Linked DNA regions of Homo sapiens. The protein of the gene in region 2 interacts with the protein of the main gene of each other region in a biochemical or structural test. Each region holds a gene or a part of one and is shown on either strand. Other genes may lie near its edges.

The links. Proteins that work in one complex are often made in the same cells at the same time.
Region 1: the proteins of UBLCP1 (region 2) and PAAF1 form a complex in vitro, tested with the Homo sapiens proteins (one study listed by BioGRID).

Annotation. Positions count from the first base shown.
Region 1 is NC_000011.10:73,872,013-73,879,998, forward strand, and holds the start of PAAF1 (proteasomal ATPase-associated factor 1), read left to right. Parts: upstream 1-4,986; 5' UTR 4,987-5,009; coding exon 5,010-5,056; intron 5,057-6,766; coding exon 6,767-6,807; intron 6,808-7,986. Other genes in the region: COA4 (cytochrome c oxidase assembly factor 4 homolog, mitochondrial), read right to left, coding at 1,103-1,393. UniProt on the Homo sapiens protein: Inhibits proteasome 26S assembly and proteolytic activity by impairing the association of the 19S regulatory complex with the 20S core.
Region 2 is NC_000005.10:159,259,053-159,266,300, forward strand, and holds the start of UBLCP1 (ubiquitin-like domain-containing CTD phosphatase 1), read left to right. Parts: upstream 1-4,237; 5' UTR 4,238-4,308; intron 4,309-7,248. UniProt on the Homo sapiens protein: Dephosphorylates 26S nuclear proteasomes, thereby decreasing their proteolytic activity. Recruited to the 19S regulatory particle of the 26S proteasome through its interaction with 19S component PSMD2/RPN1.

The sequences.
Region 1 (7,986 bases), on a different chromosome or scaffold from region 2:
CTAAAAATACAAAAATTAGCCGGGTGTGGTGGTGCTTGCCTGTAGTCCCAGCTACTTGGGAGGCTGAGGCAGGGGGATCACTTGAATTTGGGAGGCAGAGGTTGCAGTGAGCCGAGACTGCGCTACTGCACGCCAGCCTGGGCAACAGAGCAAGACTCCATTTCAAAAAAAAAAAAAAGAATAGAATGGAAGAGTCGTTTTGTTGAAGAAAAATGAGAAATGATATGCAACTGTTTTGAATGGGAAAACACAACCTACTTAAAGGGGGAGTTATTATTCAGCTCCAGCAAATTGTTAAGAGGGAATAAAAATCAATGTTGACATCTTCTCCCCTTTTCAAAAGCTGAAAATCTGTATTTTAGTGTTAAATATACTCTAAAAATGTTAGCCCAACTTTGTGTTTGTTGGGTTGGGAGCAAGTTAAAGCCAGACTTGGTATCTGTTAATTCAACAGAATCTGGCATTTAATAGGTACTCAATGTTTGAATAATTAGCTGGGTGTGGTGATGCACACACCTGTGGTTCCAGCTACTTGAGAGGCTGAGGTGGGAGGATGGCCTGAGCCCACTGAGGATGCAGTGAGCCCTGACTCCACCACCACACTCCAGCCTGGGCAACAGAGACCCTGTCTCAAAAAAACAAAAGAAAAACATATTTGAATAAAAAGTTTCCCCATTTATTTTTCCTTCCACTAAACTGATTGAAACATCCAGAACAAGTGATGAAAGAGAAAGGCACTAATTAGGTAATCAATTTACCATTAGATTGTAAATTTAATTTAAAATAAAATGTCCCTAAAATCATCTCAGTACTTGGCACACTGACTTAAGATGTGGGGTGGGGGAGCATCCCTTAACACATTCTTTGTTTTCCTGGTAAATACTGGTGGAACAAGACAGCTGAGAATGTATGACATCTGACCATGAACATATGACAGCTGTTTGTGCCAGTCATGTCCAAACCCATGGCTCTCAACTCCAGATCCAAAAACTCTCCCCATGTTTTAGACCTCCCACACCAGCATTTAGGATTTCTTCCTCTATAATCTTGCTGGGTGCTGGTCTTGGCAGGGCCATCTACTGGGGATAGGTGGTTTGGGGTCTCAGTGGTGGGCACCGGCTTGTTCTTGCCTCCTCTGCAGCTCCTCTTGCCGCCTCGCCTGCTGTTCACTCATGCAATCCTTGAACGCCTGCACCTGTGGCTGGCATTGCCGCCAGTCCTGGTGCTGGGCCATGCACTCCTGCACTGCAAAGTGGGAGGCAGCACAGCCAGAGCGGGAGATCAGCTGGTCCAGCGGGTCCTCCTCCTCATCGTCTTTCTTCACCCGTTGGGTCCAGGTATGGCCTTGAGGGACTGAGGTTGACATCCTGGGGATGGGGAGTCTATAGAACATTAACAGGTTAGAGTAGGGATATAATATGTAAGGTTCCTAAATTATAAATAGCACTGACCAGACTGCACCATTTAGCCTGTTTAATGTGTCTGTCTCCCGTGGGAGACTCTAAGCTTGAAGACAGATGCTTGTTTTTTTTTTTTTTTTTTTGAGGGTGTCTTGCTTTGTTGCCCAGGCTCACTGTAGCCTCCATCTTTAGGGATCAAGCAATCCTTCCCCCTCAGTCCCTCCCTGGCCAGAGTAGCTGGGACTACAGGTGTGCATCACCACTCAGCTAATTTTTTTGATTCTTTAATAGAGACAAGGTTTTTCCATGTTGCTCAGCATGGTCTCAAACTCCTGGGCTCAAGTGATCCTCCTGCCTTAGCCACCCAAAATGCTGGGATTACAGGTGTGAGCCAACTGTGCCCGGCTGATGTTCGTCTTGATTTACCTTTGTGCCCCCAGCACTAGGCCTGGCTGAGAGCAGGCCTGAAAAGTGGTTTGAACTGAATGAGATAAACTGTGAGAATGCTTGACATAACATTCAATAAGCTCAGTGGATTTTGCTATTGGAATATGAATTAGGTGAAATGTCATCTTTTTAGATAAGCTATCTCTGATCTACCTAAAAAGAACTAAACTTTCAGCTAGGTACGATGGCTCACACCTGTAATCCTAGCATTATGGGAGGCTGAGGCAGGAAGATCCCTTGAGCCCAGGAATTTGAGACCAGCAGGGGTAATAGCAAGACCTCATCTCTACAAAAAAATTTAAAAATGGCTGGATACGGTGGCTCATGCCTATAATCCCAGCACTTTGGGAGACTGAGGCAGTCGGATCACCTGAGGTCGGGAGATCAAGATCAGCCTGACCAACATGGAGAAACCCGTCTCTACTAAAAATACAAAATTAGCAAGGTGTGGTGGCATATGCCTGTAATGCCAGCTACTCAGGAGGCTGAAGCAGGAGAGCCGAGGTTGAACTCGGGAGGCGGAGGTTGCGGAGAGCCGAGATCACACCATTGCACTCCAGCCTGGGCAATAAGAGCAAAACTCCATCTCAAAAAAAAAGAAAAAAGAAAAAAAATGTAAAAATTAGCTGGGCATAGTGGCACACACTTGTAGTCCCAGGTACTCAAGAGGCTGAAGAGGGAGAATCCTTTGAGCCCAGGAGTTCAAAGGCTGCAGTGAGCTATGATGGTGCCACTGTACTCCAGCTTAGGTGACATAGTGAGACCCTGTTTCAAATAAATAACCTTTCTTCTTTTATCCTACTAGCCTTATTCTATGCTGAAGAACAAAGTTTAAAAAGTGAAAGAGGCTGGGTGCAGTGGCTCACACATGTAATCCCAGCAATTTGGGAGCCCGAGGCAGATGGATCATAAGGTCAGAAGTTCAAGACCAGCCTGGCCGGGATGATGAAACCCCGTCTCTACTAAAAATACAAAAATTAGGCGGGCGTGATGGCAGGCACCTGTAATCCCAGCTACTCGGGAGGCTCAGGCAGGAGAATCGCTTTAACCCAAGGGGCGGAGGTTGTAGTGAGCCAAAGATCGTGCCACTGCACTCCAGCCTGGGTGACAGAGTGAGACTCCATCTCCAAAACAAACAAACAAACAAAGTGAAAGAGTGCCCAAATATGGGTAGGTTTTGACACATGGGAAGGATGGAAAGAGTTCACTGTGGCTGTAGCATACAGTATGCAGAAACCTGGCCTCTGGGTCTATAAGGTGAGATGGCTTTGTAAACTATACAAAAATGTGAGGTGTATTTATTTGCCCAAACTGTCTTGCCCGTCTGCATCAGAACACTCAGCAGAAAGCAGCATACAGAAGGAACTTAAGGTTTGAAGAGAAATGACTTCAGCCTTTGCAAAAATTTCACCATGATGGGCTGTAAAGCAACTAGGACTCCTTATTGCCTTAACTGTGTCTCTCATTCACTCAACAAATGATTAAGTACCTATCATGTACCAGGCACTATGCTAGTGCTGAGGATTCAAGACTGTCTAAGTCAGTTAAGTTCCTGGCTTCATGGAGTTTACAACCTAGACAAGGAAACAGGGCAGTTTACTACACAGTGTACAGATAGCAAAGACTGGGACCACAGTGGAGGGATGCCTAATCCAGACAAGGGCAGGAATAGGCAGGGAAGGCTTCCTAGAGGAAGTGATTTCCAAGCTGAAACTTGACAGATGGAACAGAAGTTAGCCAGAGATGGGAAAACTATTTTTGGTCAATGGAAGAGCAGGTGGTTGAGATAGAATCTGACACATGAGAGCAAAAAAAAAAAAAAGTTCAGTGATGGGAGAATACAGTGTGAGAATAAGACAATATTAAACTGGCGATATAAGTAAGTGATCATCACAAGGCTTTGTAGGACATAGTAGGGAGTTTAAGACTTTTTATTCTGAGGGCAATGGGGAATCACAAGAGGGAGTTAGGCACTTTACACAACTCATTTGCCTTGGAGGCGGTATAACTTAAGCAAGAGGGAGAAAATGGGCTTTGAAACAGACTTGGACCTAGCTTTGTCACTGCCTCATTTGGTGCCCTTGGACACATCATTTAATAACCTCTCTGGAAGCACAGAGATGAAGCCGGGTGCCATGGCTCACGCCTGTAATCCCAACACTGGGAGGCTGAGGCGGGAGGATGGTTTGCGCCCAGCCTGGGCAACACTGTGAGCCGTGATCACGCCACTGCATTCCAGCCTGGGTTACAGCGGGAGACCCTGTCTCAAAAAAAAAAAAAAAGAAAAAAAAAAAGGTAAGGTTTGTAAGGAGGCTGGTATGTCTAAAGAGTTCAATAAATGATAGTTTTCTCTTCCTAAATACACTGTTAACTCTTTAAATAGGGCCAGGAGCAAATAATTTAGAGAAAGAACAGTGGAATAGAAAGTGCCTTGATCCTAAACCAAGAGATCCGTGTTCAAATCCCAGCACTACGCCTTACTATGTAATCTTTTTCATTTTAGTTTTCCCATTAATAATATTTAATTCGCACAATTAGAATGAAGATTAATATAACGAATGAAAAGCGCTTGGGCTACTATAGGACTCAGTAAATGCTGCTGTACTCTCCTCTCACCACCTTTTGGCTTCAGTCTCCTCTGGAGTAAAATGACGACGACCCCTGCTCAGAGATCAGGGTAGGCTAGATGGTTGGCAGCTGGATCGTGGAGGCTGGCCTAAACAAGGAAGTCATGGAAAGGATCTTAAAGCAGAAAAATGCTGGCAGCCACGAGGCCTGAGGCGCCTCAGGCGTATCGAGGACTTTGAACTTTGAGGACGCATGCGCGCGCGCGGCCGCTGATCGCAGCCCCGTTGTGCCCGCAACGCCTCCTGAAGAACGCGGTACGCGATGCTCACCGAACAGGTGGGAGAAGAGGGCCCGAACGCACGCTCCTACGCGGCGGCTTGGGTTTCGCAGGCGGTTGGGGATCCTCTGTACATCCTTTCAGGAACCAGCCCCTCGTGGGGAGCGTGCACACGGAAGGGGCGGGGAATGTGAAAAAGTCACGTTTTCATTGGTGGCCTCTTGGTGTTGAGCCCACCTCTGTCCTCGCCGCACGCTTCTCGGGGACTCACTTCCGGGAAGGGGCGGAAGAGGTGGGCTGGTGGAGGCGGGGTCGAGATGGCGGCGCCTTTGAGGATTCAGAGCGACTGGGCGCAAGCCCTCAGGTGAATCCAGGCCCAGAACAGAGTCAGAGGAGGCGGGTAGTGGATGTTGCTTTGCGTCAAGGAGAGCCATGCCTGGTCCAGGATATCAATAGGGGTTACTTCGTCAATTGTCGAGGGATATGGAGGGAACAGGGTCCGGAAAAAGAAGTATCAAACCCGTATGGTCATTCTCTGAAAAGCTATCCCTAGGCCAAGGGAGCACATGAGCTGTGTGATCCCCGCGTCAGAACTAGTATCAGTGAGTTGGAGAAAGACAGGGATACTGGGAGGCAGGAAGGCTTTTGGCCAAGCAGTCATTTAGCAAATATTGATTAGTCGTCAGTTACTTCCAGAAGTCTCTGTACTCACCACCACTTTGTGTATGTGATGGAACCTTTGTATTCTCCTAGGCCCCTAATGCTATATTAGGCATACTGGACGATACTATTAAGGAAACTAATACTGTGTCCAGGCCCCATACTGGATGCTTGGTGGAGCTCAGATGTATACTCTAAATATAAGTGATGGTTCCTGCTCTTCAAGAAGCTGACATCCAGGCCAGGCGCAGTGGCTCATGCCTGTAATCCCAGCACTTTGGAAAACTGAGATTGGTGGATCAGTTGAGGTCAGAAGTTCGAGACCAGCCTGACCAACATGGTGAAACTCCGTCTCTACTAAAAATACAGAAATTAGTCGGGCTTGGTGGTGGGCGCCTATAATCCCAGCTACTCGGGAGGCTGAGGCAGGAGAATCGGTTGAACCCAGGAGGTGGAGGTTGCAGTGAGCCGAGATTGCACCACTGCACTCCAGCCTGGGTGACAGAGCGATACTCATCTCAAAAAAGAAGAAAAGCTGACGTCTTAATTAGGAATACACAGCAAACTATTCATTCATCTAACATTTATTGATCTTATACTATTCCAGTTATTTCTCTAGGCTTCAGGATGAATATAGCAGTGCTATATTTGGCAACTGCTACTACTAATAAGGGTTTTTCAAATTGAAACAATGGTGAAGATGAATGAAACATAGCCTTCTGCATTTAAGAAATTTACACCTTACTAAATTTATACCTTACTTAATTTAGGTGGGCTAAAATACAGACTAGTTGCTAGTACACAGAATGTGATAAGTAATAAAGAACAATAACATGAAGTGCCACTAGCTACCTATGAGAAAATACAGCACCAGAATCAGAAGGCTTAATTTGCCCAAGATCATGCATCTCGTCAAATGATAGAGGGTTGCTGTCAACCTAGATCTTTCTGTCTTAAATGCATAGACCCTTTCCATTATACCCTAAAAGTGCTAGGGTGAAGAGATCAGGATTTGGATGATTGGGCAGGTGCTAAAATAATAAAAGGAATCTTGTTTGGTTATTGTGAGGGTTAATGATTGTGTATGGAAAGTGCTTAGCACAGGGCTTGGTTTACAATAATCCTGATAAATAATTAAATAACCTTGATTTTTCAAAGTGAGCTCACTGTTGATGGATGAGCATTAATTTAACCAACAGATATCTATTCATTAAATAGTTAATCCACAAATATTTCTTGAACAAATAAAGTTTGTCTGTCTTAGAATGATCTATACTCGATGAGAGGTTGGACTATCTCATGTCTAAGTACTATGACCAAGCTGGAGGTTACATGACCTTCTTTCTTCCCTTGTAACTATGGGATCCTATTCAACTTTGGGTAAGCCTAATTAGGCTTTTGTCTTTCTTCGTAGGAAGGATGAAGGGGAGGCCTGGCTGAGCTGTCATCCCCCAGGTAATACCCATGAATTATATATGCTGTGACTTTAAAGGAGAAGGATTAATACCCTTAAAAGAAAGCTTCCTACTTTCTCCTGGCCCAGCCTCCTTACATAATAGTCTGCAAACATGCTTGACCAGTCTGTACTGTATGGCCAACACCCCAACTCCTCCATTCCAAGGGAAGGCCTTCAGATTGATTTTCCATTTGAAAGCCACAGACTTATTCATGGAGACATTGTTGATGCATCTTAATTAGTCACTTACCCTGTGCTATTGTATTCTAAGCACTTCTGCAGCTTCAACTGGGACTTTCTTGATGATAATTTCTAGATCTACAGCCCCAGCCCTGACTTCTCCATGTTCAAGCAGAGATTGATCAGTTGTTTGCTAGATATTTCTGCTTAAAGGTCTCACTGTCACCTTAAGTTACTGGACTTACTGAAGTCCAAAACCAAGCTAAGTACATTTGTTGTCAAGTGAGTTCTCTTTCCTGATTTTTCTCATTTCTTAAGTTACCATCATTTTTCTAGGCATCAGAGTGAAAAACCTAGTTACTTGACCCTGCCATATCCAGGAAGCTCCCAAGTCTTATCAATTTTTCTTTTGAACAACAGTCTTATATCATTCACAGGATTCTTTTCAAATTGTAACCGAGGTGGTACCATTCTAAAACAAATCAACCTTCCTTCTAAATTCTGTAAGAAAGTTTTGTTTTGCTGATTATCTTTCATTTCAAATGCTGCTGATATATTGTATTTCTATGAGAAATAAAGTTTTGGCCAGGCACAGTGGCTCACACCTGTAATCCTAGCACTTTGGGAAGCTGAGGCAGGAGGATCACTTGAGCTCAGGAGTTCGAGACCAGCCTGGGCAACAAAGTGAGACCCCCTCCCCATCTCTATAAAAAACAAAAAAAATTAGTCAGGCATAGTGGCATGCGCATGTAGTCCCAGCTACTTGGGAGGCTGCAATAGGAGGATCTCTTGAGCCCGGGAGGTTGAGGCTGCAGTGAGTTATGATCGAACCATTGCACTTTTGCCTGGGTGACAGAGTGAGACCCCATCATTAAAAAAAAAAAGACTATTGTTTATATCAGTGGAATAAAGGATGGACTTTATAGTGCTGTGACTTGCCAATCATCTTAAAAATAAGGCCAGACGTGGGGGCTCATACCTGTCATCCACCATTCTGG
Region 2 (7,248 bases):
AAAGTCTCATAAAAGGCATGGTGGCTTACACCTGTAATTCCCAGCACTTTGAGAGGCCAAGATGGGTGAATTGTTTGAGTTCAAGAGTTCGAGACCAGCGTGGGCAACATGGCAAAACTCTGCCCTAGAAAACACACACACACACAAAATTAGCTGGATATGTTGGCGCGTACCTGTAGTTTAAGCTACTCGAAATGCTGATGTGGATCACCTGAGCCCAGCACGTCAAGGCTGCAGTGAGCCATGATGGTGCAGTTGCACTCCAGCCTGAGTAACGGAGCAAGATAAAAAAAAAATAACATAAACTATACATATGTGTGTATGTGTGTGTATAAAGTCTAGAAAAGCAATGATAGGCACTACAAAAAGTTAGCAGAGTTATGAACGTATCTGTGTTATTTCAATATTTTTTAAAAGAATGCCTTTATGAACTTCTCATATAAAAAAGAAATAAAAGTAATGTAAAACTGTAAAAAATTCAGATGTACATAAAAATATAAACAAGATGGAAATTGCCTGTTCTGTGATGCCACAGATAATTTCATTAATTCACCTAACAAATATTTACTGAATACATCCTATAGAGCTATGATCTATCACGATTTTAGTGTGCATTTCAGACCTTTCCTGTACCTCCAGAGTTATATACAAATTGTAATCATTCATTGATATGTATTGTTACAAGCGTAATATGTACAGCTGGCCCTCTGGATCCACAGGTTCCAAAACTACGGATTCAACCAACCTCGGGTTTGAAGTATTAGGGGAAAAACCCAAAGATAATAAGACAACAATAAAAAATAATGGAAGTAAAAGCAATACAGTATACCAACTATTTACATAGGATTTCCATTGTATTAGATATTATAAGTAATTGAGAGATGATTTAAAGTGTATGACAGGATGTGTATAGGTTATATGCAAATACTATGCTATTTTATATCAGGGACTGGAGCAGCCTTAGATTTTGTTATTTATTGGGGGCCCTAGAACCAATCCCCTACCAATACCAAAGGACAACTGTTACATCATAAGCTCTTATTACTTAACATTCATTATTCATTCATTCAGCATATATTTATTGAGCATCTATGTTAGCCAATATCATGCTAGGTTCTGAGAATGGAAAGGTGAATAAATTGTCTGTTCCTTAACAAAATTTACTGATATGGTTTGTCTTTGTGTCCCCACCCAAATCTCATCTCAAATTATAATCCCCACGTGTTGAGGGAGGGGCTTGCTGGGAGGTGATTGGATCATGGGGGTGGTTTCCTCCATGCTGTTCTCATGATAATGAGGAGCTCTCACGAGATCTGATGGTTTAAAAGGGGCAGGTTCCCCTGCGTGCACGCTCTCTCTCTCTCCTGCTGCCATGTAAGACATGCCTTGCTTCCTCTTCACCTTCTTCCATGATTGTAAGTTTCCTGAGGCCTCCCTAGCCCTGTGGAACTGTGAGTCAATTAAACCTCTTTTATTTAGAAATTACCCAGTCTCAGGTAGCATCTTTATAGCAGTGTGAAAACTAATATGCTTACAATATAGTGGGAGAGAATGTCACTAAAGAAAGAATATTTCCAAGAAGTATACAATTATAGATTATGTCAAGTTCAGACAACTGTAAACAATGTTCTGAATATCCATCTGTGAAAGGAAAGGGTGATGGCTATGATGGCAAGATACCATGGCATGTTTATTATTGATGGGAATGAGCCAGTAGAAAGAGGTTAAAAATACAAGAGCAAGAGAAGGGAATCCTGGATTTATAGAAAGCTTCCTTAGAAGGAAGAAGCCGGAGAACAAGTTAAAGGGTTGGCTTCAAATAGAAGCGAACTGCCTCAACTGAAATAAGCAAGAGTGAGGATGACTGAAAATATACCTTAGTTTGTAGATTCAGAGGTTTGAAGAATTGCCAAAATATGGGACAATGTCATCTGCCTAGAGCAAAGGAGTATATTGGAAGTTCTGAGGTTTGAAGAGAATGGAGTTTTTAAGTAGTAGTTTGGGGAAAGCATGCTGAATAGAGAAGGGCAGTAACTGGGCATGCTTCATTAAGAACCTGTATTCTGTCATGTGGGGCAGATTCTAAATATTTTCAGCTCTCTTACTGCAGGCAAGATAAAGGCAAAGGAGTAGGTATTAGAAGAGAGAGACAAACTTCTAGAGGGAACTAAATTTTTGAAGAGGATTGTCTTCCAACTGGGAAGAGAGGGAAAGCTTTTTGAGGGGAGTAGATCTGAGCTGGGCAAGAGAACACACTTGCTAGAGAAAGAAAATGGCCAGAGAGAGAAAAGGGGAGAAAAAAGTCTGGGGGAGATGGAGATAAAAGCAGAGTAGTGGGGGATTTCTGGCCTAGGTGCAGGAATGTCCTTTTATCTTCCAAAGTAAATGTGGTCACAGTAATATTAACAGTTTGTCATCTGATGTTGTGAAATTGTTTCCATATATTATTTAGACTCTCAGACCTGACAATCTATGGAGGAATTCCCAGGCATCTTTAGCTGCTACAGAGATGCATGAATGAAGGACAAGTATATTATCCTCCACACATTAGAAGAGAGGCTCCAGGGAGCAACAGGAGGCAAAAGTTCTTCTTTTCTTTTTTTTTTTTTTTTTTTTTGAGATAGTCTTGCTCTATCACCCAGGATGGAGTGCAGTGGCATGATCTTGGCTCACTACAACCTCCACCTCCCAGGCTCAAGTGATTCTCATGCCTCAGCCTCCCGAGTAGCTAGGGTTAAAGGCACATGCCACCACACCTAGCTAATTTTTTTTATTTTTAGTAAAGACTGGGTTTCACCATGTTGGCCAGGCTGGTCTTGAACTCCTGACCTCTAGTCATCTGCCTGTCTTGGCCTCCCAAAGTGCTGGGATTACAGGTGTGAGCCACACTGTGCCCGGCCAACATTTATCATTTGTGTTGAGACTATCCCAACCTTTCTCCTCTATTTTGAAATACAAAATAAATTATTGATTACTATAGTCACCCTACTGTGCTGTGGAACGCTACAACTTATTCCTTCTGTCTAACCATATTTTCGCTCCTTTTAACTTCTCTTCATCTCCTTCTCCCTCCTTATCCTTCCCAGCCTCTGGTAACCACAATTTTACTCTCTATCTCCATGGAGTCAACTTTTTTTTAGCTCCCACATATGAGCACCAAACTTCAATGTAAGACCCAAAACTATGCAGCTATTCCAAGAAAACGATTTGAGAAAATGCTTGAAAATGTTGGTCTGGGCAATGATTTTTTTTTTTTTTTTAATTAAGACTTTCTGAAGAAAAGGGCATACTTTTCACTGAAAAAGTTTGAGTTTTTTAAATGAGCAGATACTCATGCATTACTAGTGCAGCCAAAAATTATCAAAAGTAGGGAAGAATGCAAAATAGCGTGTGCCTCTTAACTAAAGAACTGTTAAGATACAAAACTTGGCTCTTTGCTGCCTTTCCCGCACTGCCAAGAGGGAAACATGAATTAGTTACATTGCCGTGGTGCTCACTGGGAGTTCGCTGTATGGACCAGATGGGTACTGCTCCGAATTTCCATTCAAGTCTGACATTCTTTTGTCAGCGTTTGTGTAACCGGTTTTCCTTGCATTCAGAGGAAAGACAGCATGGAAGTATGGATGGGAAGGTTGAGACGATTGGATACTGTATGGTAACCTCGATCGCAGCTCTCCTATGAGACTTGCTTCTTGGATTCTGAGTCACTTAAGCTTGCCCCTTCTCTTTCCTGACCCTCTTCCGTTTCCCCTTAGATTGGAGATTCTCCTCAGATTCTAAGTCTCTGAAATTATTAGTGTTGGCAGCCCCTGGGCCCATGGAGGGGTCTCAAGTCTTCAGTTCTCAAAGATCACCTTTTAAGCTTCATTCGGAACATGACACAGCCACACGAGTCCTAGCCCTGAATCTCACGAAGACCTCAGTACACCTGGAAAAGGCAGCACACCCAGTTACGACACTACTAGAGACGTCACACGCCTCAGCACCCATCCGCTCCCAGCCCAGAACGAGCGCACGCGCAGAACGAGAGAGCGGCCACCCAGGGATCGGCGCTATCTGCACAGCGGTTACAGTCTCGGAAAGGCCTGGCTTCTTCGTGGCTTTGTGGAGATCCCTTACAGCGGCCATTTGATTAGCACCCGAAGAGATTCAAAGGAAGCAGTTGTTCCGTCCCCAACATATTTCCGTTTCAAACCACCCACTTCCGGTTTTTCAGCCGGTTCCGGTCCCGCCCTTCACTTCCGGTCGCTTTCGGTCTCTCAGCGGCCGGTTTCTGCGTCCGCTGCCGCAGGTTCCACCGCGCTCCAGGTGAGGGGTTGCGGGGCACCCTGGCGCGCTGCCCTTGGAGACGCTGTTGGGGCTCGGGGACAGTGGCTTTGCGGCCCGCGCGGCGTGGCTTGCACTGCGGCGGGCTGGGGATAGTGTCTGTCCTAGTCTGACGCCCAGGCCCCTAGCCCCGGCCCGCTTAGTCGCGGGGGCCGCTGTCCTCCCATCCAGCAGTCTAGCCTATTTGGAGGGCTTTCTGTTTCCCAGTGGGTTTTGCGTCCCCAAACTTCATTCCTCCGTCTTCTCAGGCTTGTCCATCCCTCCCCTCAACCTCCTTGTTGAAGGCATCCCGGCCTTTTTGGTTCTGGAGCCTCCACCTGCCTCCTAATGCTCCCCTAAGTCAGTTAGCACAGCCCCCGACCCTGCACCACCTCGCAGTTGTTGCTGGTGTGCGGTTCTCGCCGGAGTTCTTAGTGCTTCACGGTTATCTTTTGCTGGGATTGTTGAAAGTTAACCTCCCGTTAATTCCCAAAGTGTTACTTTTACTGCTATACTTTAAAATTTCTTCATTTGCCACTTTTTAGGTTTGTGGTCCCGGGCAAGTTTAATTTCTTTTCAGGATTCTCATTTGTATAATGAGGACAACAGCTGTTGGTTCAGGATTGTGAAGCTTCAATGAGATAATTGTTTAGCATGTTTTTATTCCATCATGAACACCATTTGTATTGTGTTTTACAGTTTACAAAGTGCTGTCACAGGTGTTACTTCATACCTTAACACTACTCCTGTCCAGTGAATATTAGTAGCCTCATCTTGTTGAGAAGACTGAGGCCAAGAGGTGGATTGACTAGGCAAAGTCAACACAGTATGTTAGGTAGAACTCCAACCTAAACAGCTATTCTTGACCCTAGGTTGACCATATGGAAGTGTATTCTTTGCTTGCTTGTTTGGGTTTGCCAACTTCACTCCTCCCCACACCCCAAATCATTTTTCAGCTTATAAATCTGATGGGATCTGAAATGATACAAAATACTAAGAAAGAAGGTTAAATGTGAAAGCAAAATAGCTCATGCATTTATATCACACTGCTTCATTGGTGTGAACGGTCTTAATGATGAAATAAGGTTCAGTAACTTTTAAACAAATCTTAAAGACATATGCATTTACAATTTTTATGGTGTTTGTTTCGCTTGGCCCTTTAAGGCATTTGCCAACTTGGAATTTCCACTTGTGGGATAGGTGCTTCGTAACGTTTTTATGCTGCTTTATTAACCATATAGAGCCCATGCCCTCTGGCACATTTTTTTTAAGGCTGAAAACATTGAAGAGCCTGTAGTACTGACTCTCAAATTTGAGCATTCATCAGAGGTGAGGAGGACTGACCTTGTTAAAACACAGATTCCTAGGTCCCTTCTCTCCACCCCAATTACATTTCTACCAAATTACCAAGTGAGGTCAATGCTGTTCGTTAGCCCAGGGACCATGCTTTGAAAACCACTAGTCTAGAAGAGCAATCACTTGTCCAGGGTCACCTGGAACTCAGATGATTTCACTCCAAACTCTGCACTACTACGCATCACAATATATGCGATATTAGTGCTGGTTGCCTTTCTAGCTCTCGTAGGATTCCCTTTTATTCTTATGTCTTACAGAAAATATTTAAACTGTATTTCAGTTTAACTCAAAAGGTCCACTTTTAATTGAAGAATATAACATTTGTTATAGTTCTGTCTAAAATGGAATACGTTACCCTAAATTAAGACACTTGCTTTACATTTTCAGTAGAACACATTGTAAACATAGGAGTAAATATACATTTATAGTTCATATTTGTATTCATATATGAGTAAATATAAATATGAATTTATGGCTCTCTCTTCTAATTGGCCTTTTAGTAGGAGACACTGTTTTTAAATTATTTTTGGAAGTGGAGATTAAAAATTTAACCTCTTTCTTGCAGTTGGTCCTAATAGTTGCATGAAGAGTGCAATCAAATGTTTCATCAAATAAGTGAAAGCATTGGAAATACCAATACCTTGAGATTAGAAAATCCAGTTCTCTGGACTGTGGGAGGAATGAGTTTAATGAAAAATAGAAAGCTTTATGCAGGAAGAGACATATGTTTGGTTATTTACATGAGTGGCAGCCACTATATAATCTTTGTGTGCTTAGATCTGTACCCATGGGTTTTGTATTTTCTGATTGATATGGTTTGGCTGTGTCCCTACCAAAATCTCAACTTGAATTGTATCTCCCAGAATTCCCACTTATTGTGGGAGGGACCCAGTGGGAGGTAATTGAATCATGGGGGCCGATTTTTCCCGTGCTATTCTTGTGAATAAGTGAATAAGTCTCATGAGATCTGATGGATTTATCAGGGGTTTCCGCTTTTCTGTCTTCCTCATTCTCTCTTGCCACTGCCATGTAAGAAGTGCTTTTTACCTTCTGCCATGATTCTGAGGCCTCCCTAGCCATTGTGGAACTGTAAGTAGCTGGGATTACAGGCGCCCACCACCACCTCTGGCTAATTTTTTTTTGTATTTTTAGTAGAGATGGGGTTTCACCACATTGGCCAGGCTGGTCTTGAACTCCTGACCTAAGGTGATTCACCTGCCTCAGCCTCCCAAAGTTCTGGGATTACAGGCATGAGCCACTGTGGCCAGCCTTGGGTATGTCTTAGCAGCATGAAAACAGACTAATACGGTAAATTGGTACTAGTAGAGTGGGGCATTGCTGAAAAGATACCCGAAAACGTGGAAGCAACTTTGGAACTGGGTAACAGGCAGAGGTTGGAACAGTTTGGAGGGCTCAGAAGAAGACAGGAAAATGTGGGAAAGTTTGGAACTTCCTAGAGACTTGTTGAATGGCTTTGCCCAAAATTCTGATAGCTATATGAACCATAAGGTCCAGGCTGAGGTGGTCTCAGATGGAAATGAGGAACTTGTTGGGAACTGGAGTAAAAGTGACTCTTGTTATGTATTA